4 linked regions of the Homo sapiens genome follow. The protein of the gene in region 1 purifies or fractionates together with the protein of each later gene. This does not show direct contact. Each region holds a gene or a part of one and is shown on either strand. Other genes may lie near its edges.

What was found.
Region 2: the proteins of EGFL6 (region 1) and SORL1 purify together in Homo sapiens (affinity purification with mass spectrometry; 2 studies listed by BioGRID and IntAct, with this or other methods). This does not show direct contact.
Region 3: the proteins of EGFL6 (region 1) and LRP2 purify together in Homo sapiens (affinity purification with mass spectrometry; one large-scale study listed by BioGRID and IntAct). This does not show direct contact.
Region 4: the proteins of EGFL6 (region 1) and ZZEF1 purify together in Homo sapiens (affinity purification with mass spectrometry; 2 studies listed by BioGRID and IntAct, with this or other methods). This does not show direct contact.

The regions. Positions count from the first base shown.
Region 1 is NC_000023.11:13,628,325-13,631,720, reverse strand, and holds part of EGFL6 (epidermal growth factor-like protein 6 isoform 1 precursor), read right to left. Parts: intron 1-3,396.
Region 2 is NC_000011.10:121,605,464-121,609,622, reverse strand, and holds part of SORL1 (sortilin-related receptor preproprotein), read right to left. Parts: coding exon 4,052-4,159; intron 2,779-4,051; coding exon 2,666-2,778; intron 2,438-2,665; coding exon 2,333-2,437; intron 1,520-2,332; coding exon 1,447-1,519; intron 1-1,446. UniProt on the Homo sapiens protein: Sorting receptor that directs several proteins to their correct location within the cell. Along with AP-1 complex, involved Golgi apparatus - endosome sorting.
Region 3 is NC_000002.12:169,243,722-169,247,880, reverse strand, and holds part of LRP2 (low-density lipoprotein receptor-related protein 2 precursor), read left to right. Parts: intron 1-365; coding exon 366-503; intron 504-894; coding exon 895-1,176; intron 1,177-2,948; coding exon 2,949-3,188; intron 3,189-4,159. UniProt on the Homo sapiens protein: Multiligand endocytic receptor. Acts together with CUBN to mediate endocytosis of high-density lipoproteins. Mediates receptor-mediated uptake of polybasic drugs such as aprotinin, aminoglycosides and polymyxin B.
Region 4 is NC_000017.11:4,132,807-4,136,965, forward strand, and holds part of ZZEF1 (zinc finger ZZ-type and EF-hand domain-containing protein 1), read right to left. Parts: intron 1-4,159. UniProt on the Homo sapiens protein: Histone H3 reader which may act as a transcriptional coactivator for KLF6 and KLF9 transcription factors.

The sequences.
Region 1 (3,396 bases):
CTGCCTTCCAGGCTCAAGTGATTCTTGTGCCTCAGCCTCTGAGTAGCTGGGATTATAGACATGTGCCACCATGCCCAGCTAATTTTTTAAATTTTTTAAATTTTTAGTACAGGGTTTCACCATGTTGGCCAAGCTAGTCTCGAATTCCTGGCCCCAAGTGATCCACCCACCTAGGCCTCCCAAAGTGCTGGAATTACAGGCATGAGCCACTGCGCCCGGCCTGAATGAATGTTTCTTCAATATTGTAATTTAAAAAAAAAAATAGTTCATGTTAATTTTATAATCAGATAAAACACTAGAAATATTTGTTAAATTCAATAATTATGAAAATAATAATAGCTACAATTTATGGAGCACCTATCCAGTAACATTCACTCTAAAGAGAAGTATGTCTCCCATGCCTCCCATAAAGAGCAGACTAGGCCTAGAGGGTTTCTACAATCTTCAATATCCGAAATAAGCAGATTTAGAGGACAACAAAATGATCCTGATTCAAAGATGACAAAAGTTACCCTGGAACAAACATAGAGGGAAAAGAATATTTCATTTGGAACATGGTATTCTTTAAAATAACATGCACATATAGCCTATCAAAATGAAATTCAACAATAGCCTACGCATACTGCAGTTACAGATAAATAAAAATATACATTCATGTGCAAAGTAAAATGTGAAATATAAAAGCACTCATGTTACTGTAGTATGATTATGAATCTTTTCTTATTTTCAAAAAAGTAATTTCCTTTTGTCATTTCTAAACTTTTTAAGCTCAAACTTATATAAATTCAAACTTGTATAAATTGGCATTTTAAAGAAAGACCCTTTAAGAATCATGCTCACAACAATGCCATCATGCAATTATTCACTATCCCCAGCACCATCTCTTTTTTGCTTAATAAAGAATCACAGAATAGTCTTCAGAAATGAAGCAACTTTAGGCTTGCTGTCATCACCATATCCAGTTTTCTCTGGCTCTCCAAAGAAGAGAAACCTCAGGGAACAAATGGAGATGACAAGGGTCTATGACTGCTCAGTACCTGGGCTGCTCTCTTTTGCTCTCAATCTGAGTGCATTTTCTTGAGAACTATTGGAAACAAGTTATTACTAAGCAGCCAGTGATAGCACAACTGGGTATAGAAGTTTCTTTTTCCTCTAGTCTCAGGAGGGAACTGCTTTCAGAAAGATGTTCCTTTTGCACCCAAAGGAACTTTTTTTAAAAAGTAGGGGTGAGCCAAACAGCAGACCCCTCACAGCAGCTGCAATGGGTGGGATAATGAGGGTGGCTATGTCTACATCTTGGCATATGGTGGCTTTTCCAACACTAAGACCCCTGACTGATAACCACTGGATAACTAGAAATAAATGTCCGGATAATTAATTGACATACTAATTTTGTGTTTTTCACTATATTTTTACCTCCTCTATCCCCCCCAAAATTAGGCAGGATTTTAATGTTCTTTTTTATCAAGGAGATTTGGGATATAACAATCAAAAGCAGACTTTTCTGGAAGATGGTCCCTTTCCTGACGTTTGTTACCCACAAGCTTAACTTTCTGAGACTGTGGCTGAAGGTAGAAGGTTAAAAGGAGAAGTGGTGAGGGGAGCCATGAGATTCTCCAGGACTAGGATGCTGTACCACTGCATCTCCCTGGCAGAGCCCTGGGCAGAAAATGGTTGCCTGATGTTCCTATTGAGGCTAGATTCTCAGCAACAAGATTCCAACCCCAGTAAAGGTTTCTGTGTCTGGGCCTGGCATGGAAGTTGAAGAGATGAGTGACTTCAAGGGCCACGTAGGTGCAGAAGATATGGGTATCCATGGCCCCCATGATGAAGTAAAGATGTGTTGCCCCCTTCTTAATGTCTGGACCATTTTTAGCCTTTCAAAAGCACAGGCTACCCTAGGGAGGGGGCCCCTATCCCAACCCTGAATGAGGAAATAGCCAAGATTAAATTTCCCCCCCAGCCTAATGGGATGGGGCTTTGGATTCAGAAATAGTTTGATTTCGAGAAAGCAATGTGACTTACATTGTATGCCCAAGTTTATGCAGCAAGAGTCACATATGTTACAAATGTCCACAGCCAATATGACATTGCTAAACTGGAATATATTCTTTAGACTGGATTAGTCAGCTTCCTTACCCTTCAATATCCCCCCATCAAGATTTCCCCTAGAACTGAAGAATTCAAGGAACAGATGCCTGGGTCTGAGAATGCCTCTTATGAAAGCACTGCTGTGTTCCAGTGTGATTGCTGGCCAGGCTCTTTGGGGGCATGTCTACAGAAATGTGCATTTAAAAAAAAAATCACTGTTTTGCTAGTATACCCTCCCTGCAAGCTACCATGTTATATTAAAAATATTCTCCATCACATGAATTCAGTCAACATGAAAGTGATTATGAATGCTGTGCAGAGGCATGTTTCAATTCTCCAGCAGGGGATATCATCCATATATAGCATGGCTCAGTGCCACAGTCCCCAAACCATGCTGCAAACACAACAAGAAAATACGTGGATTGGATTTGTATTGATTTAAATGTACTGCTATAAGAATAAACTCAAATTAATGCATGTGTCATTCCTAAACAAGCACTGGCTGCTTTTACCTCAGAGGGGAAGAGTGGTTAGGAAATTCATTAACTGGTACCCAACATATACTTTTATTTATAGTCATGTCTCATGACATATTTTAAACAAGATGTTCTGCTTTAATTAAACTATGACATGTAAATGAAAAGATGTTAAATTTGCATTAGTCATCTTTCACAAGCAAAGTATAAATGGAATCCCAATACATGGATCTACTAATTGCTCTTCCTATTATCACCACTTAATGTACCTTTTTCTAGCTTTCACCCTTTTTCCTTCCCACCTTGACCAAACTTTTCATTTGTTTGTTTTTTCGGGGTTTTTTTTGAGATAGAGTTTCACTCTTGTTGCCCAGGCTTGAGTGCAATGGCACGATCTCGGCTCACTGCAACCTCCGCCTCCCGGGTTAAAGCAATTCTCCTGACTCGGCCTTCTGAGTAGCTGGGATTACAGGCTTGCACACCTGGCTAATTTTGTATTTTTAGTAGAGATGGGGTTTCTCCATGTTGGTCAGGCTGGTCTTGAACTCCCAACCTCAGGTGATCTGCCTGTCTCGGCCTCCCAAAGTGTTGGGATTACAGGCGTGAGTCACCTCGTCTGGCCTACCTTGACCAAACTCTTTATAACGTCCACAGTGGCTGCCTTAAGGCTCTGATCCCTTCTCTTTTCATCTTTCTGAAGTGTGACCTTCGACCCTTCCCCTCCAAAGAAAGAACTCTTGCAAAGGTCACTAGCCACCTTCTGATGGGTCAAACTGAATAGACTCTTTGCCATTTTTATTCTGCTTGTTCTTTCTCAGGGTTTCATCCA
Region 2 (4,159 bases), on another chromosome or scaffold:
CACAGCTGCCTTCTGTACAAATCCTAGCCCAAATATATGCAAGCAGCTGAGATTCATCAAAATCACAGAAAAGAAGTTAAAGAGAACCAACCATCCACTGAGATTTTCAAATGCAGTTGTGACTTGTGCCTTCGGAATTCAAGGTACATGTATTTGGTTGCTCTTCCAACATCCCTTCTTGGTATGTGTGGTCAGTGTTTTGAAACAGACTTTGTAGAGAGAAGAGATACAACAATAAAAATTCTAGGAGAGTGTGAATTCAGCAGGCTTTCTCTAATACCTGCAAGCATTCAGCTCCAAAGACCATCTGGTGGCACTACGTTTGGCCGCCTTGGGCCCTGATCTCAAAGGCTCCAGATTTTAGAGGGGACTAGATAGTGACTCTCCATGACCCAGAGCCTATTCCTCACAGGCTTAGGTTAAAGTAAAATCTTCCAGTCCTATTGCATGCCACAGTGTCCATCTGGTTTTAATACCTGGAAGTCCAGAAATGCAAGTCCCCAGTGTCAAGGCTAAGGTCAGGAAAACCACTCTGGAAAATGAGTTGTAGTCCATCTCCCAAAGTATGCCAGAACCCTTCATTTAACTGCTTCGATTCACTCAATCATCAATTATTTCCTTAGTCTCTACTAGATGCCCGTGATAGAGTAGAGAAAAACAGACCAGATCTCTGCCCTCATGAGGCACTCGTGCAAGATGCTGAGCCCGCCACCCCCGGCAAGCAGGGCGGTCCAGTAGGCCGCATGTGTCTCAGCCCAGAGAGAAGCGTGGAGCACAGTGGTTAAGAGCACAGGCTTTGGAGTCAGGCAGATCAGGTTCCAGGGCCAGCTCTGTCACTTACTGATTGTGTGGCCTGGGACAAGTGACATAACCTCATTCCAGTTCCTTATCCTTTCTTGTAGTTGTTCTGACTGTTCAATTAGATGAGCTGATGTACGCAAAGCAGTGAACACTCTAGAGTGTCCTGCCCTTGGCAAGCCATCAGTTATTACTAATATCAGCTCTAGTACAAGATAAAAAACCACCTACACACAGTTTGCCAGTGCCACTGGGAGAATAACAAGAGTCAGCATGGTGCTTTCTTTAAAACCCCGTAAGTGAACATGCACAAAATCATCTTCAGCTTTGGTGAGAAGGAAGGACTCCTTCTATTTTAGATATTTTGACTACTCACAAAGGGCTGCGCATGATGGCCTTTGGAAATCCCTTTGTATGTCTGCATTAGAAGAAATGCTCAATACTAGGAGGAAAAAGACACTCAGTCACCCCAAAAAGACTCTATCTAAAGCACTACAGAGACACCCAAAAATGTGCGTGTGTTGGGGAGAAGAAAGTTGTGTGATGTTTTTCTAAACTACGTTTCTCCATTTTCCGGTCATACTGAAAGTCATTTGAAAGGGTTTGTATAATATTTTCTCTAAATCTGCAAATGCTGGGATCATTTACCTTTTCCTTTTATGGTGGTAATGGATTTAGAATCGCTCCAGTTTCCTATTCCACGACTAGTCACCGCAGCCACCTTTTCAAATCAGAGGGTGAATTAATATGAAATAAAGGCAATACACCATACACCATACAGTAAGAATACTGAATGAGCTAAAGGGGTGAGATTTTGGCAGTGAGGCTGGAAAAATTTTATACAGAGTGATCCAGAATATTCAGAGGCCCCAGCATCTGAAATAAGAGGGCAAAAAAGCCAAGGGAAGGAGCTTGGGTAAAGGGCATTATGACAGTCCTGAGATCAGAAAATTTCTATTGATCCACAAATATCAAGGTTCTTCTAAAGGGCAGGTGTATGGGGGGGTGTGTTCATAAATACACACATATACAAAAAGGGTACTGACAAAATTATCAGTGTGAGAGTCATGAATGTGCACACTTAATGGTCTCAGCAAACATGTTGTTCACAAAATCTATCTCTTTCTGCTAAAAATACTAAAAATATATTTCATAAGAACCTCATAAAATCAGTTTAGAAAGACTACTTATCATAGCTCTGCATCATCCTGCAGCTAAAGATAAGCAGGAAAGAGCTGACTGCAAAAGTATAGGAGCTGGAAAGCTAGCAGAATACCGGAGTTAAAAGCAGGGAAAGCGGCATTCCCATAAACGCCCGGTTATCTACAGAAACTCTGATGTCAAGCTCTTTGTGGTGTCCATTTAAGAGACTGAAAGAAACTCTGAGCTCCCCCGTCCCAGGGCAAGAAGTTGGGTATTTTGCAGATTACTAATATGCATCTCACAAAGGTGAGTAGAGAGTTCTCACAAAACAGCAGCAATTTCGCTCAGTTCTAAGACTGCATGGATGGCTGGAATGGATGACGACACTCACTCTGACGGTGTATAGAGTGTTGACCAATAAGTTCTTGATTTCTGTAAAGTTACTAGCAGCCCTCTGGGAGGCCCACATCTTGGAACCACTCCTGCTGTATTCTACCTAAAGGGAGAAGAAAAAAAATGTGAGTAAAGGGAACCAAAGGTCCAGGGCATCCTAATATCTTGCAAGGAGGCTGGAGGAGAGAAAAGATGGTGAGGAGCAAAATGTTCTGACGGATGGGTCATCACCTACAAAGCTAAACCAAATCAACCCCCTCGTCATACAGAATACCCAGAAATCTCCTAGCACCCCCAACACACATACAGCCAACTCATGGAAGGTACTTACAATGTACTCACGGATGAGGCCATGGGTGTGGATGGGAGGAGCCCAGTGGCCTACAATCACACCTTCTGCTTCCCTGGGGAGTGACAGCTGGAGATTTCGAGGGGCATCTGGCACTAGAAAAAGAGTCAACTCAAGGTTAAAACCCATCTGCATAGCAGCCAACCAGAGGAATTTTCCTGGGCTTAGAACAAGGACAAGAACGACTCCACAGCCGGCATTGAGACTATCCACTAGAAAGGCTGCTAGCTTGGTCGTCACATTGAAAAGACACTTTTCCTCTTCTTCCAAAAAGCAAGGTGTGCCGTCCACACATCACATCATGGCTCAGTTGAGTGTGTGGTAAATTTGTGGCTCATAAGGGCTGCAGGATAGAATCACTTGGGCAGGCTGAGTCACCACTGACCCTGAGACTTCCATGCTGAGATCTTAATTGTCAATGACAGCACCTGCTGCCTCTGCTTCTTGTACAACAAAAACTGTACTGTGGGCATGACTACCAAAAAATAAGACTAATTTTGTAACATCACAGAATTTCTATATCCAAATGAATTTGATCATCTTCAAAGCAGGCTCCTTAATGAGTTTAGCGCTAGCATATTCAGGATACTTTAGGCAATGAAAAAAGATGACATTCAAGCAGACAGTTGCTCATGTCAACTACTTTGAAGTAGGGAGGAGGCGAGGAACTCTCTTAGACACATAAATTTGGTAAATTTCTTAAAAACTTAGCCACAAAGCCAGGTGCAGTGGCTCACACCTGTAATCCCAACATTTTGGGAGGCTGAAGTAGGTGGATTGCTTGAGCTCAGTAGCTCAAGACCAGCCTAGGTAACACGGCAAAACCCTTTCTGTACAAAAATACAAAAAGCTAGCTGAGCATGGTGGCACACACCTATAGTCTCAGCTATGCGAGAGGCTGAGGCGGGAGGACCACCTGAGCCTGGGAAGACTGAGGTGGTGAGCAGTGATTGCGCCTCCACTGCACTCCAGTGTGGGTGTCAGAGTGAGACCTTGTCTCCAAAAAGAAAAAAACTTAGCCACAAAATTGCTGATATGCCTCATATTTTAATGACGATGACCTCCTCCTAAGTACCAAGTACTAGGAAATATCTAGAGGAGGAACGTAGAGGTAGAAACTAGACAAAAAATGCAAGAGGGCAATGGTGGAGAGAATCTTAAATTAACTTAAGGTACAAGAACAGTCTCTGATGCAGTAAGAAGAACAGATGTTTGACAACTCTGGCAAGACTATAAAGCTTAGCCACCATACTTCTGTACATGTGAGGCACACATATGTTCCCACATTCCTGAGAATACTCAGAAAGACCCTCACAAACCCCGACCTGAGGTCTTACCCATGCCATAAAAATTAACTGAAACACTTACATCCCTCTGGGGTCCTCAGGGTCACAAAGTCATTGGTGTTGTGTGCCTTGCTGAGACACTGAACCTGTACTTTAACCTGATACGTGGTATCTGGTTTCAAGACTTTTA
Region 3 (4,159 bases), on another chromosome or scaffold:
AGGTGAGTGCTTTAGCGGGTGCAGACCTATGAGGCCTCATTTAATGCTCTGTAGAAGAATTCCCCAATTCTTATTTTCACTATTACCTATGCAGAACTAAATCCAATTGCTACTAAATGCCATCATAAAACTCCATATGTGCTTGCCTGAACCTGAACCCTGATATTATTAACATACAGACTTCCACAGAGCATTACTAGGGAGTAACAAGTCGTGGAAAATGGTTAGAGAAACATATTACAGATATTTATGGGGGAGATGATCGTACTTGCAAGAAGCATTTCAAGCCTATTGCATTTTCTCAAGTGATTTATTTATAAGTTAGCTGTGACTGAAAATACTAATCTACCCATGTTTCTTTTCAGAGCATTTATTTTTTACTGACTGGAGACTGGGTGCCATTATTCGAGTCAGGAAAGCAGATGGTGGAGAAATGACAGTTATCCGAAGTGGCATTGCTTACATACTGCATTTGAAATCGTATGATGTCAACATCCAGACTGGTGAGTGAGATTGCCCAGTTTTTTTTATTTTTTTGTATGGGTTTATTTATTTGTTACAGTGGCTCCTGTTCTCTTTAAGTACTTATTACTTAAAGGTCTAGCTCCTGGTAGTTTTATATTCTTGTCGTTCACATAATCTAAGAGTGTAAGACTTGAAATCTCTGTTCAATGCTGCTAGCCTTAAACATGTTGTCAGGAAAAACACATTTTGGGACTTTTCCATACCTAAATGGAATGTTGTATTTGGCGGGTTGATTTCCAAGAGGAAGCTACTTTTTAGTATTGGGTCTGAAAAATGTTTTGTCCTGTTTGTTTTCCTTCACAAATCAAACCCGTGACCTACCTAGTGAAAATGTACATGACTGACTCCCTCGGGGCTTTGCTTTTGCAGGTTCTAACGCCTGTAATCAACCCACGCATCCTAACGGTGACTGCAGCCACTTCTGCTTCCCGGTGCCAAATTTCCAGCGAGTGTGTGGGTGCCCTTATGGAATGAGGCTGGCTTCCAATCACTTGACATGCGAGGGGGACCCAACCAATGAACCACCCACAGAGCAGTGTGGCTTATTTTCCTTCCCCTGTAAAAATGGCAGATGTGTGCCCAATTACTATCTCTGTGATGGAGTCGATGATTGTCATGATAACAGTGATGAGCAACTATGTGGCACACTTAGTAAGTAGCTATGCACTGGCGATATTTCCTGGGATGAATAGAGTAGAGGTGGGCTTTAAAGAAAATAAATAAAAGCTTGGGCTATTTATATGGGAAAAATATCTTTTAGAATTTCAGATTCTTAACATGCACTTTGAAGGCTTTTAGGAAGCTAAGCAAGAAATTTCATTCATAATGTTATGGATGGTTTCTGGCCTTGATTTAGACTATCTTCAACAATTTTTTTCCTTGACATTGGCTGTTTGGACCAATGCAGTCATTATGTCTTGGCAAACTCCTCAAAAAGTCAAATCGAAATAAACTAGATCTGACCAGGCAAGGTGGCTCATGCCTGTAATCGGAGGCCGAGACAGGAGGATTGCTTAAGTCCAGAAGTTTGAGACCAGCCTGGGAAACATGACGAAATCCGGTCTCTACAAAAAATATAAAATGGCACATGTATACATATGTAACTAACCTGCACATTGTGCACATGTACCCTAAAACTTAAAGTATAATAATAATAAATAAATAAAAAAGAAATAGATGAGCTCAGAAAAAAATATGTATATAAAATTACAAATAGCTGGGACTATTACAAAATACAAAATTACAAAATACAAAAAAAACAAAATTACAAGTAGCTAGGACTACAGGCACATGCCACCACACCCAGCTAATTTGTATTTTGTATTTTCACAAAATTTGTAAAATACAAAAATTTGTACTTGGGAGGCTGAGGTGGGAGAGTTGTTTGAGCTGGGGAGGTTGAGGCTGCAGTTAGCCAAGACTGTGCCGTGTACTTCAGCCTGTGCAACAGAGTGAAGCCCTGCCTCAAAAAAATAAGCAAACAAACAACAACAACAACAAAAACCAAAAATAAAGTAGACCTAACATTTAGCAACCGAGAGAATAGTATCACAGAATAACTACTTGCAATCATAGCCTTTGGAAAATCTCATGTGTTATATTCCTTTTCTCCCATGTTAGAGTAAAATAAATTAACAATGAAATGGTGGTCTTAACCTTTATATTCTTCTTTTGACGGTAATCTAGTCTATATAGTTTGGGGCCTAATAAACACTATTGCAGAAGGCAAAAGTATTACATTCAAATTAAAAAAAAGATAGAGGACAGTTGAAATCTCAGAAATCTCTATCAAGGTGAAGTTAATACTAATAATAACCTTTCTTTTGGAGAGAAAGAGGAGTGACAGATTTGCAAGAGTAAAGTGCTCACTTGTACATTTTTCTGAAATTTTTTAAATTTTCATCTTTTTGTGTATTATCTTCTTGTTTCTAAGAGCACAGCATTTTACCTTAATATTTTATCTATTTGCACTTTTCATATGACATATTTTCAAGCTTTCTATAGTCTGAATTTGAAATTGTGGTTGGAGGAAGTAACAGCTTGAAAGTTAAGGATGAGCTTTAGAGTGAATCCAACCAGAGCGTGAATCATAGGCAGGTTCCTAAATCTCTCAAAGACTCAATTTCCTTATCTGTAAAATGCAGACAATTATATGTACTTTATAGTATTCTTGTGAGGATTTAAAGAGAACTTATATGATGTGTGTGGGTGCATAACTTAGAAAAATGCCTTTTCTATGATAAATACCAAATAAATGCCAGCCAATAATGATGTTAGTGATGATGACATCACTTGATGAACATTTCTCCTTATTATATACAATGCCTCCATTAAAAAAGGTGAACTGAGCCTTTATAAGGCAAGAACTCATTTAAAAGGCTGTAAAAACAAATGTCTTCATGACCAGTTTGTTACTATTGTAGATAATACCTGTTCATCTTCGGCGTTCACCTGTGGCCATGGGGAGTGCATTCCTGCACACTGGCGCTGTGACAAACGCAACGACTGTGTGGATGGCAGTGATGAGCACAACTGCCCCACCCACGCACCTGCTTCCTGCCTTGACACCCAATACACCTGTGATAATCACCAGTGTATCTCAAAGAACTGGGTCTGTGACACAGACAATGATTGTGGGGATGGATCTGATGAAAAGAACTGCAGTAAGTTTTGAGCTGGTTTCCCTTGGTTGGTCAGCCTCGTAAATAGACTTCAACAACCAAATGGCCTTGCATTCTTTCCTCTAAGGCTCATGCAATTTTCATTGTCTCTTTAGTACTTCTATTCCACTTGTCAATCTCTGTGTCAATAGGTTACAAGAACAAAGGCACGTGCCTGCACATGGGATTCTTAGAGTCCACCTACAAATATTGAGTTCTATGGAAGCAAAGCAAGGACTGCCTCTGATGCCAAACATTTCAATTCAGATAGGAATTGAAAAAGTGAAAATCCCTCAGCTATCTATTTATATATTTAAAACAATACTAAAAGTCATATAGATATATCCAGACCTTTGGCTATTGATGTTTCTTTTTCATTTGGTACAAGCAAAAAGACATCAAAATAAAGAGGCACAGAAAATTTAAATTTCCTTTGATCTTATCCACCTGTTTTCCATCTTGCCAGTTCTGCTTTCCTTTAGCTTGTTGTTTTATTTCATGTCTTCAATAATAGTTTAAGATGGAGCAAAGTTCCCTGGGCTAAGTTCTAGTCCTGGTTGCCTGACTAGGCAAGTCACTATCATTTGGAATAGATGAGCTTTAAGATCCCTTCTAGCTTTCATACCCTATAAGTGTGTATTTAATATAATTTCATGTTGTGGGTGGGGCCAGCCACTGCATCCGACTCCAAGGCTATGGTCTTAACAGTAAGGTAGGACCCTGGTTTTTAGAATTGTTCTGTTCAGACTTTTAAATCCAGTTTTGGGGGTCTGTCTACACACTGTTGCTACTAGGCATGTGGGTCATGCTGGTTTTGTTGCCTGATTGGGCTCCATTGCTTGGCTTTGGTCTAGAGTCATGGACTTCATAGTATTCATGAAATGTAGTCCAAGTCCAAGCACATGATGCTCACTTTCTGAATGTGGTCTATTTTCCAAGGTGTAATCACAGTTTCTGACTCTGCCCTGTAATCT
Region 4 (4,159 bases), on another chromosome or scaffold:
ATACAAAAAATTAGCCGGGTGTGGTGGCGGGCGCCTGTAGTCCCAGCTACTCGGGAGACTGAGGCAGGAGAATGGCATGAACCTGGGAGGTGGAGCTTGCAGTGAGCTGAGATCACGCCACTGCAGTCCAGCCTGGGCGACAGAGCGAGACTCCATCTCAAAAAAAAAAGTGGAGCAGGTGGGGGAAGAAGGAGGTGGCACAGAGCAGAGCCTCATCTTCCCTGAGGCCCTGCGGTGGGAACGCTACACTACCAGATAATAGCTACTTCCCAAATTGTTCACATTATAGCATACTGAGAAAATAATGATATTTGTAAGACTCAAGGTCTGAGGAGATTAGCACAGCTATCATTCATTCAGTTGGGAACGACACACAGACTTGGAAACTATGAATCAATATTTGGGCACTCGTTAAATGCCAGGCACCGAGCAGAGCATTTTATATACTATAATGTCATTTATTCCTCATAACAGTAACAGTACTATTAACCTCCCCGTCTTATAGTTGTACAGAGAGGTCAGGTACCTTGCCTGAGGTCACACAGCTAGTGTTTGCATCCAAGGCTTCAGGGTTCATGTTCTTCACCACAACTCCCTTCCCCTTCCTTTGACCAGATAACCCCTCGGGTTCCTTACCATCTGAAGACCAAATGCTTAAAACCTCTTAGCTCCATTACTTTCCTCCATCTATAAAAGCTGCTTTCCGCTCCTTTTGTCCAGGTGAACTCCTATCAACTCTAGAAGTGAGACTCACTCCCTCTGAATCTCAAGGTAGCACTCAAGTCCCACTTCCACCAAAACTTCCACAAATCAAGCACTCCCTGCACCTCCAACTTCCCACACAACTCCTGCTGTGTATTGCTAATAAAAATTCTATATAACCAAGGCTATAAAAATACTGACATTTTTGCTATCTTTTTTTTTTTTCTTTTTGAGACAGGGTCTTCATCTACCACCCAGGCTAGAGTGCAGTAGCGTGATCACAGCTCACTGCAGCCTTGACCTCCTAGGTTCAAGCGGTCCTCCCACCTCAGCCTCCTGAGTGGCTGGGACATGCTCAGCTAGTTTTTTATTTTTTTGTAGAAACAAAGTCTCACTATGTTACCCAGACTGGTCTCAAACTCCTGGGGTCAAGCAATCCTCCTGCCTTGGCCTCCCAGACTGCTGGATTTATCGGCATAAGCCACTGTGCCAGGCCATTTTTGCTATTTTTAATAGATTCTATTGATTCATCAATAGTTAATGAATATGATAAAAGGGATTTTCGAATAAAACAAAAACAAATAATTTTGGCTAAGAAAAAAATTACCACAGCTTTGTGAACAGCTTCACCAAATAATTATGTAATTTCCTAACACTCAAAAACTGACTGTCTTAAGAAAAGAAATGTTCAGGTTTGCTACCCAGGAGGCTGAGGTGGGAGGACCGCTTGAACCTAGGAGGTCAAGGCTGCAGTGAGCTGTGATCACACTACTGCACTCTAGCCTGGGTGGTAGATGAAGACCCTGTCTCAAAAAGAAAAAATATATATATATTTATATATATTTATATATATATATTTATATAATATATAATTATTATATAAATACCTGATCCTGTGTTTGGCTCTGTGGATACAAAGATGAATAGGGCACACAGTCCTTTCCCTTCAAAAACCTCACAGCCTAGAAGACAGATCTGTAAACCAACAGCAGCAATGTAATAGGTGTGACAATTACGATACGAGAACTAAGAGTATAAACTATTTACAACAGCCAATGTTAGTGAGCACCAGGCAGAGTTCTAAGCCCTTCACATGGATCAACTTATATTTTCCACAACAACTCTAAAGGTAGGTACTACCTTTTTGCTGGTGACGAACAGAGAGGTTATTTTTTTTAAGGCATATGGTTAGTACACGATGGAGCTTGAATTTGAATCCTGGACTGATTCCAGATGCCACAATTAACCACTATACCATGGGCCAACAGACACTCCAGGGATGAGAAGTCCGAGACAGGGAGGGGCGTTAGGGGAAATGGCCCAGAAAAAAACAACCCTTAAACTGTGCTTTAATGGGTAACTAGGAGTTTGAAAGTATATGGCGAGGGAGAGGCAATCTCAGGTAGAGGAGACAGACTGTCAGCATACATAAAGACTGTATGGCAGATAGTGAGAACTATGACCTGCCTGGTGTGGCTGGAAAGGAACAGGGCAGGTGATGAAGACAGGGCTAGAGGTCAGAATAAAAAGAGCCTGGCAGACCCAGGATGAAGAGCTCAGATATTACAGTAAGGGCACCATGGGGCCACTGGAGACTATTAAGGGTGGAGGGCGCTGATCACCCCAGATCTGCATAAGCTCTCTTATGTGTGGGACCTACAAATCTCTTAAAATATGTGCCTTTGTGCCAGATGCGTTGGCTTACGCCTGTAATCCCAGCACTTCGGGAGCCCAAGGCAGTAGGATTGCTTGAGCCCAGGAGCTCAAGACCAGCCTGGGTAACATGATGAAACCCCATCTCTACTAAAAACAAAAAAATTAGCCTGGCGTAGTGAGGGGCACCTGTAGTCCCAGCTACTCAGGAGGCTGAGGCAGGAGAATTCCTTGAACCTGGGAGGCAAAGGTTGCAGTGAGCTGAAATCACCACTGCACTGCAGCCTGGGCAACAGAGCAAGACTCCATCTTAAAAAAAAAAAGGTGCCTCTGTACAGCCTGAATCCATTCTCCAGTGTCTCTGAGAGCGCTCAGCCACTTTCTGTTACACACATCAGTGATGCTTCCCAGCTCATCTCCTCTGGACAGTTCTGACAGCAGTAACTCTCTTCCTCTAGTGAACTGAAAACCTGCCTCCCCAAAGTTACCATCCCTGGGGCCATTCAGAACACATCTACTCCTTCTGCCCAGAGACAACCTGCAGATCACTGATAACAGCGATCAGGTCCTCGGAGTTCCTGCCAAACCCTTCTCCATTCTTTCCACCAGCTCTCCATTTGCTATGGTCTCAGTCTCATTCCCATCCTGATTGTCACCTTTGGGATCCCTCTAGTTTGTCAATAAACCTCAGAACAAGTGCTTCTCAACTTTTATTGGCTGATCCAGTAAAATACATTTTGCATCATGACCTAGCATACACATAATTGGTATCAAAGTTCCAAGAAACAATGCAATACTTTTTCTCATCAGTTACAATGTACTCTGATATTTTCTCTTTTTTTTTTTTTTTTTGAGACGGTGTCTCGCTGTTGCCAGGCTGGAGTGCAGTGGTGCGATCTCGGCTCACTGCAACCTGTCGCCCAGGTTCAAGCGATTCTCCTGCCTCAGCCTCCCGAGTAGCTGGAACTACAGGCGCGCTTCACCACACTCAGCTAACATGGTGAAACCCCCGTCTCTACTAAAAATACAGAAATTAGCCAGACATGGGGGCAGGTGCCTGTAATCCCAGCTAATCGGGAGGCTGAGGCAGGAGAATCGCTTAAAACTGGGAGGTGGAGGTTGCAGTGAGCCGGTATTGTGCCACTGCATTCCAGCCTGGGCGACAGAGTGAGACTCCGTCTCAAAAAAAAAAAAACAAAGACATTACAGAGGCTAGAATAAACATCTTGAACTACAACCATAGAAAACAGTAACACTGCCAATTACAACACTTATTGAGCACTGAGCAGGTGAGCTGGTTTTATGGGTGAGGCGACTGAGACACTGTGGTCAAGTAGGTTGACCAAAGTCAGCTGGCTTGAGAATGGTGGAACTAGAACTTGCTCACAAGCAGGCTGGCTCGAGGCCCAGTTCCCAAGCTCAGTCTGAAGAACAGCAGAATGAGCAGACTCATAACACGGCAAACCCGCTGATGCCATTACAGGCTAATTACACACCCGTCCAGGTTGCTATGAAAGGGGTCCCTTTTCGGGGGCAGAGAGGGGGCAGCTTGCAGGCAATGAGTACCAAGGTCCCAGCTGGTTCAGACTGTAGGCTAGGTGCTAAAGGATCATTCCCAAAACGTGCCATGCCCTCTCACTCCAGTATATCTGCATATGCTGTGCCTTTCATACGGCAAATCCCTTCCTTCCTTTGCCAGGCGAATTCTTCCAGCCTCTCAAGCCTTGTTGTGATGAAGCCTTTCTCAAACTCCATGCTGCTGGTAACTGCTTCTCTGTGGTCCCTGAAACTGGAGTGGGCTTAG